Linked DNA regions of Homo sapiens. The protein of the gene in region 2 interacts with the protein of the main gene of each other region in a biochemical or structural test. Each region holds a gene or a part of one and is shown on either strand. Other genes may lie near its edges.

Region 1 (3,230 bases), on a different chromosome or scaffold from region 2:
AGAGGCCGCCAAGATTCCCTGTCATTTCCCCCTTAAAGAGAAATATTCAAGATCTGTGAATATCTGTGGCCATCTCGGGAATTCTGTGACACTTTTTGGCACTCTGACTTGAAGTATTTAATAGATTTATCAGCACACAGGAAATTAAATTGGAAGGCTTTCCTCTTACACGTCTATCAAGTTAAAACTTTTCAGGATAAAATTTTTATCAGTTTTAGTAACATTCATGTTATGAAATGGAACATAAATGCTACTGAAACTTAATTTTTTTTTTTGTAGAGACAGGGTCTCATAATGTTGTCCTGGCTGGTCTCAAACTCCTGGCCTCAAGTGATCGTCCTGATTCAGCCCCTCCAAAGTATTGTGATTACAGGTGTGAGCCACTGTAGCTGGCCAAAACATTTTATTCTGAAGTGTAGTCTCTACAAATTGTCTTTAAAAGTGTGAATGGTAAGTTAAATTCTTGCATTACTTTTCTACCCAAATAAAATTACTTAAGGAAAAATTTCCCCTCCCATCTGTGTGGGCTCAAATGGTGCATCTTGTAAGTAATACCCTTGCTTACTCAGAACACTCAGCTGAGTCAGGGAGATTCTACACAAAGGTGTTTCACTGGTTTTATTTCACAAGGAAACAATATGAAGCGAAGCCAATCTATTCCTTCTGTGGCTTTAAATGCTCCCGATCTCTCAGCTGTGAAATAGTGATAGCATTGTCCAGATCTTCCAGGGTCGTTGTGTGAGTTAGAGATAATTTTTATCATTTGCCAAAGCACAAGAGGGCCCTGAGTAAAGAATGTGTGTATGGGTATCTTTGTATGTTTATAATTACCATTTCCATCAGGAAGAACAGCAAGACTTCACTTAATCTAAAATATTCGTGGAGTTAAAATGTAGGGAATAGAGAACTACGATCTCTCTTCCACCAGCCAGAAGTGGAAAATAAAGGAAGATGCTAAGAGGAAAGCTGGGCGGTTTGATCTCATCTGAGAGGTGTTCTTGGCTGAGGAAGCAGGAGATGTCCGACAACTGGCTGTGGAACCTGGCAGTGACATCAGAAGAGCTGGGGAGCGAGCCCTAGGACCAGCATTTAATTTATTTGAAGGTGTCAGAAGCTGAGGTTGCAGAATTGAGTCCTTTTAGCAGCTACCGCCCCTGGATGTAGTTTGTGAGAGGACGGGGAATAAAGAGAAAGCAGACCCCGACCGGGCACAGTGGCTCACACTTGTAATCCCAGCACTTTGGGAAGCCGAGGCAGGCGGATCGCCTGAGGTCAGGAGTTCGAGACCAGCCTGGCTAACATGGTGAAACCCCATCTCTACTAAAAATACAAAAATTAGCCAGGCGAGATGGTGTGTGCCTGTAGTTCCAGCTACTAGGGAGGCTGAGGCAGGAGAAGAATCGCTCCAACCAGAGAGGGGGAGGTTGCAATGAGCTGAGATCGCACCACTGCAACTCTAGCCTGCGTGACAGAGTGAGACTCTGTCAAAAAAAAAAAAAAAAGAGAGAGCGAGAAAGCAGACTCCACAAGCTGACGTGGAGATGAGTTTATACTTATGATGCTTTCAGTGCCCTCGATCTATCCCTGGTGTAGGCAACAAAATTAATTCCCTCCTTTTAGTTATTATCCTTTTATGCACCCTTGGGACAGCCAGGGCTGCTGGCTTCTGTGGCAGTGAATTTCCCCTAGAAGGGGGCTTGGACAGTACACGTTCCCAGTGGCTCATCAGAAGTACTTTCTGCAAGGGGATTCTGTGGAACCTCAGGAGGTATGCCTGGAGAAGCCACGGAAGCCCCAGGTGGCCCCTACTACTAAGGACACTGGTTTCTAGCCTGTGAGTCTCCTTTAGGTTCAGTGAGCTTCATGTTCACCAGGAAGGAAGGCACGTTTTTTTCCTCCTTCCTTCTCTTCCACTCCCCTTTGAGAAATGAAACCATCTGAGGAAAAAGAAGGCTGGGCTTTGTAATATGGGTCAAACCAAATGGTGACTCTCAAGACTGAGCATACATTATATTCACCAGGGAAGGGTTTTTTTGTTTTTTTGGTTTTTTTTTTTGAGACAGGGTCTCACTCTTGCCCAGGCTGGAGTGCAGTGGCACGATCATAGCTCACTGCAGCCTTGACTTCCTGGGCTCAAGCAATCCTCCCACCTCAGCCTCCTGAGTAGCTGGGACCATAGGTATGTGCCACCACACTTAGCTAATTTTTAAAATTTTTTGTAGAGACTTGCTATATTGCTCAGGCTGGTGTCTAACTCCTGAGCTCAAGCGATCCTCCTGCCTTAGCCTCCCAAAGTGCTGAGATTACAGGCATGAGCCACTGTGTCTAGCTGACTGGAGAAGCTTTTAAAATAGACTGACATACATCTCCCGCTGCACAACAGCTAAGTCAGAATCTTGGCGGTAGGGAGTATGGATTCTGTCTTTCCAGTTCTCTACAATAACCTGAGGTGTGATGACATGAGCCATTTTGCACACCACTGGATACCCGAAAATGCTACAAACACCTATTCAGCCCCTCATTATGCCTGTCTGTCACAGGGAGGCTGGAAACCTATAGCTAAGTAAGGAGACTGTGTGTGCTGTTCATCAAGGGAACGTGTGACTTCCACACATGCTGGACACCAGAGATGAGGCCCAAGCTGGTGAAGGGCCCACATGGAGGTAAGGATCACAGGCTTGATTGGGAGGGAAAGACAAGTGGAAAATGGCAAGAAGAGGAGGAACTGGGAGAAGCAAAACAAGGCGAAGATAAATTTAATAATTTTCTTTAAATAAATTTGTTATGCTAAAAAAAAAACCTCTAGTCATTTTCTAGAGACTTCTTTTTGCCTTAGGGATTCTTTATAGTTCCTCTCCATGTAACATATTGGGTAATACTTGTGGTTCTGAAATAAAATGCAAGCAGGGGGGTGTACACAAAAACCTTACCACTGAATCAAGGGACCAGCTGTGCAGACATTATGTAACAGTAATATTCTATAGTTCTGAACATGGCACTTGTGAATCAATAATTTTAGAATATTTTAGAAAGGACATTTAAAAAAATCACATAGGAAACAAAGTTAAAATTTAGAAAAAAGTAGAATATTTTATCCCATCTTCTAAGCACCTCAAGCCTAAACAAAACACACAGAATGAAATTTTAATGATGCCTGTTAAGCCTATTTGAAAACAAATTCTATCTGGCCCCCATAAACGGATGTTCAGGTGTTCAGGCAATCAACTCCT
Region 2 (4,462 bases):
TGTCACAGACCCTGGCACAGGACATGGGGCAGTGTCTTTGAGCAAATCGTGGACAAACCATGGCTGTACTCAGAGGCAATGTGTGGATTGAGGGGAGCATAATGATCAGTTTCCTGCTGCAATTAAGGATAGTCACGGTCAAAGTGAAGGGCAGAGTTGAGTTTGCAAGGTTACAGTTGGGATCCAGCACATTGCTTGGATCAAGTTTGGAGTGAAAGTTGGGGTTGGGTTTGTGAATTGCAGTTAGGATAGCATGATAGGATTGCATGGAGAGAGAATTGGCAGAACACTGTGACCAGTTTGTTGGACGGGGTGAGGAAAAAGAAGGATGCCCAGGTTCTTAGCCTGGGCGAGGGAGCAGGTGGTGGTGCCCTCTGCTTACACTGGGCCACCAAGAAGACTATACTTGGGGAAGACATTGAGTTTGATTTTGTATCTGTTGAGCCTGAGGTGTCCATGGGATATCAAATGGCACAGGAGATGGCTGAGTATGGAGCCTGGAATAGAGTCACCAAGGCATGGTGACCCAAGAAGCCATTGAGAGTCAAGTTCAAATAGGAAAGTGTGCAGACAGGGATAAGAAGAGGGCCCAGGGCTCCAAGAGTGAGGAGTTGGGGAGGAAGGAAGACTCCACCCAAGCTGGTGGGCAGGCGCAAGCAATGGTAGGTGAAGACCCAGAAAAGTAGTGTCTTGGAAGCGAGGGAAGAAAGACTTGAAGTCTAGGCCAGGTGCGGTGGCTTATGCCTGTAATCCCAGTACTTTGGGAGGCCAAGGCAGGCAGATCACCTGAAGTCAGGAGTTCAAGACCAGCCTGGTCCAACAGGGAGAAACCCCATCTCTACTAAAAATACAAAATTAGGCTTGGCCCGGCCCTGTGGCTCATGTCTGTAATCCCAGCACTTTGGGAGGCCGAGGCGGGTGGATCACGAGGTCAGGAGTTTGAGACCAGCCTGGCCAACATAATGAAACCCCATCTCTACTAAAAATACAAAAAAAATTAGCCAGGCTTTAATCCCAGCTACTCGGGAGGCTGAGGCAGGAGAATCACTTGAACCTGGAAGGTGGAGGTTGCAGTGAGCTGAGATCGTGCCACTGCACTCCAGCCTGGGTGACAGTGCAAGACTCCGTCTCAAAAAAAAAAAAAAAATTAGCCAGGCGTGGTGGTGGGCACCTGTAATCCCAGCTACTCAGGAGGCTGAGGCAGGGGAATCACTTGAACCTGGGAGGCGGAGGTTGCAGTGAGCCAAGACAAGATGGCACCACTGCACTCCAGCCTAGGCAACAGAGCGAGACTCTGTCAAAAAAAAGAAAGACTTGGAGTCAGTGTTCTGTGTGGAAGTTGGGGTTTGGGGTGAGGCTGGGAGTAGCCCTCGGGTTGGGGGAATCTAAGATTGACTGGCTTCCACTTCTTCCCAGTACCCCCACACAGATGCCTCCCAGTTGAGAGAAACTCTACCTGGCCGAGCAGTGATCTCCAGGTGGAATGACATGGTCAGGTTGCCACGGTGACAATAATACTTTCCAGCGTCTTGAGCTGTGGCCCGGGGCAACAACAGACCCGTCTCCATTACCCACATATCTCTGGCCGGGCGATCGTCCTTCAGCTCTAGGCTCAGCAATGACTTAGGCCCCTTGGGGTGCACATGGGTCCAGGAGAGGGGGCCCCTGGACACAGAGTCAGGGGGTACCCCACAGGACAGCCAGAGTGTGGAGCCAGGGGCCATGGTGAGGTCTGGGACAGGGAGAGATAAGACAAGGAAAGCCTGATCCTCAGGGTTTCACCTCTTCAGTTTCCCCTCCCCTCTGTCTCTGGACCCCCGCTTCCCGGCATCTCCCCAGTCATCACCATACCCTGGCTGAGGCTCTGGTTCAGGCTGTCCCTCGGTGGGAGACACGGAGGCTCTCCCTCCCAGATCTCAGGGCGGTCTTTGGCCCACACATACAGCTTGGGGCTCATGAGCTTCCCGGAAGGGGAGCTGGGGCCCTCTGAGGACCTGTTCTTCAGGCCACAGCCCAGGCCACCTAGGTCCGAAACATTCCACCGGAACAGCTCCCCTGGGAAGAGACCCAGAACCAAATGCAGAGACACCCAGGAGAGGGAGAGAGATAGAGACTCAAAGACAGAGATAAATAGAGACAAAGACCCGCAGAGAGAGAGAAGACAGTGAGAGGTAGAGGGACAGGAAGCAGCTCATACTGAAGCCACGAAGCCCCAGGAGTCTGCCCACCTAGCTCCGAGTTTCGCCCTCAATCCCTCCAGCCCCTCTCTCCAGCTCCATTGTGGCCGCGGACCTCTTCTGTCCATGGTGGCCTCCCTTCTCTCCTCCTGCCCCTGCCCCAGCCCGGCCCTCACCGCTGCCCTCCACATTGACTGTCCAGCCAGGCTGCCAGGCCTTCTCAGAGGGGGGCCCCGGCTGGCACAGGTAGAAGCCCCCCATCTGTTGAGAGACGTTGAAGATGAAAAGCCAGATGGCCAGGGGCCTCATGTGGATTCCCAGGCCTGGCAGCCCCAGGCTGAGTTTTAAGAAGGGTTTAAGCGGGGACTCCCGAGACCAGGTCAGCTGCTGAGTGGGGCCATCTGAGGTCCCCTTGAGGCACTGCAGCACAGCGTTATCTCCCTCTGTGGAGAGAGAGGGAGAGAGGTGTGGGCATGGGTGGGGGGGACCTCCAAGCCCCCCGACTCCTCACACCAGGTTATAGAGCAGAGGACTCCAAAAGCTGGGAGTGGAGGAGCCGGCAGAGTCCTTCCAACCCTTTCCTGAATTTTACAAATAAGAAAATGGAGGCTCAGAGAGGGTAAGTTACTCAGCCAAGGACACCCAGCCACAACTCAAGTTTCCAGCCTCAATCCCTTCCCTTTCTGCCCTTTGGACATACCTTCCACCTTCACCACTAGAGGTTCCTCGGGCCTGACTTCCATGGGGGTGAGGAAGAGGAGGAAGAAGAGGAGGCGAGGAGGTGGCATGGTGGTCAGACTCTCCGGGGCACCCAGCTTCGCGCAGGGGATGCTGGGGCAGGCAGGGGCCTGGAGGGCACTCAACCATGGGTGTCTGCGGGGGCGGCAGGCAGTCCCCCCAGAGAGGAAGGCGGTGGTCACGCCTCAGGCCCCATTCTCCAGGAACCCTCCAGACTCACAACACTTGCCTCCTCCCTGCCACGCTGTTTTATTTTCATCCCAGCTCTCACTACCACGGGAAATGATCTTGTGTGTTTATTTGTTCATTTCTGTTTTCTGCACAAGAATGTGAGCCCCTTGGAGTAGAGACCGTGTTGTTCACCACTAATTGCAAGTGCTCTAGAACAATGCTGGGCACATAGACTCCTTCTCAAAAAAAAAAAAAAAAATTAGCCGGGCATGGTGGCGCACACCTGTAATCCCAGCTACTTAGGAGGCTGAGGCAGGAGAATCACTGGAAACCAGGAGGCGGAGGTTGCAGTGAGCCGAGATCACACCACTGCACTCCAGCCTGGGCACCAGAGTGAGACTCTGTTTCAAAAAAAAAAAAGAAAAGAAAACAGTCCTATACAAATATTGTTTGTGAAGATTAAAAATGACAATATGTTCAGCACTATTAGCCCAGTGTCCAGCACATCATAAGCCCTCAGTTAATGAGATACAGCTTCAATTAATGCCTAAGAGCTCAAGTCATACTGCCTCAGTTTAAAACCAGGCAAAAGCCAGGCACAGTGGTACACGCCTATGGTCCCAGGTCCTTGGGAGGCTGAGGTAGAAGGATCGCTTGAGCCCAGGAGTTCAAGGCTGCAGTGCACCATGATTATGCCTGGGAATAGCCACTGTGCTCCAGTCCGGGCAACACAACAAGACCCTGTCTCTAAAAGAAAAATTGTTTTAAAAGAACCCAGGAGTTCTAACTCCTAAATCTGTTCTTATTCTGCCCCATGCCTCTCCTCTCTGTCTCTCTCTTTCTCTGTCACTCTCTATGTGCCTCTGTGTCTTTTTCACTGCTGCAGGGACTCAGAAAAAGAATTCAGGGACCCAAGAGACCCACTTTCTCAGTGGCTGATTCCCAGGCCCATCTCACCAGGCTGTGACTTCCTGTTTGCTGTGGGCAAGCCCCAGGGGACCCTCCCTACAGGTGGCAGGGCCTCCACTTCCCTTTGGCCAGTTGAGGCGGCTGGGAGGCGGAAGAATGAGGCATGAATGAAGGGGAATGAAGGGGGCGAGTAGCAGGACTCAATCTGCCTTTCATTCAACAAAATCTCTCTAATCCCCTCATTAGCTACCCAGCTGCCCAGACTGGCTTTCACTAGAGCATGTCATTCCCCTGCTTAAAACATGTCAGTTACAGCCAGGCACAGAGGCTCATGCCTGTAATCCCAATACTTTAGGAGGCCGAGGCGAGAGGATCCTTTGAGGACAGGAATTTGAGACCAGCCTGTGCAACACAGCGAGAACCCATCTCTATAGAAATTTTTTAAAAAACAAAAAATGTCAGTTGCT

The links.
Region 1: the proteins of CD19 (region 2) and LYN form a complex in vitro, tested with the Homo sapiens proteins (one study listed by BioGRID).

What each region holds. Positions count from the first base shown.
Region 1 is NC_000008.11:56,011,543-56,014,772, reverse strand, and holds the end of LYN (tyrosine-protein kinase Lyn), read right to left. Parts: 3' UTR 604-3,230; downstream 1-603. UniProt on the Homo sapiens protein: Non-receptor tyrosine-protein kinase that transmits signals from cell surface receptors and plays an important role in the regulation of innate and adaptive immune responses, hematopoiesis, responses to growth factors and cytokines, integrin signaling, but also responses to DNA damage and genotoxic agents.
Region 2 is NC_000016.10:28,930,504-28,934,965, reverse strand, and holds the start of CD19 (B-lymphocyte antigen CD19 isoform 2 precursor), read right to left. Parts: upstream 2,996-4,462; 5' UTR 2,966-2,995; coding exon 2,878-2,965; intron 2,621-2,877; coding exon 2,354-2,620; exon of another isoform or gene 2,056-2,353; coding exon 1,852-2,055; intron 1,733-1,851; coding exon 1,457-1,732; intron 1-1,456. UniProt on the Homo sapiens protein: Functions as a coreceptor for the B-cell antigen receptor complex (BCR) on B-lymphocytes. Decreases the threshold for activation of downstream signaling pathways and for triggering B-cell responses to antigens.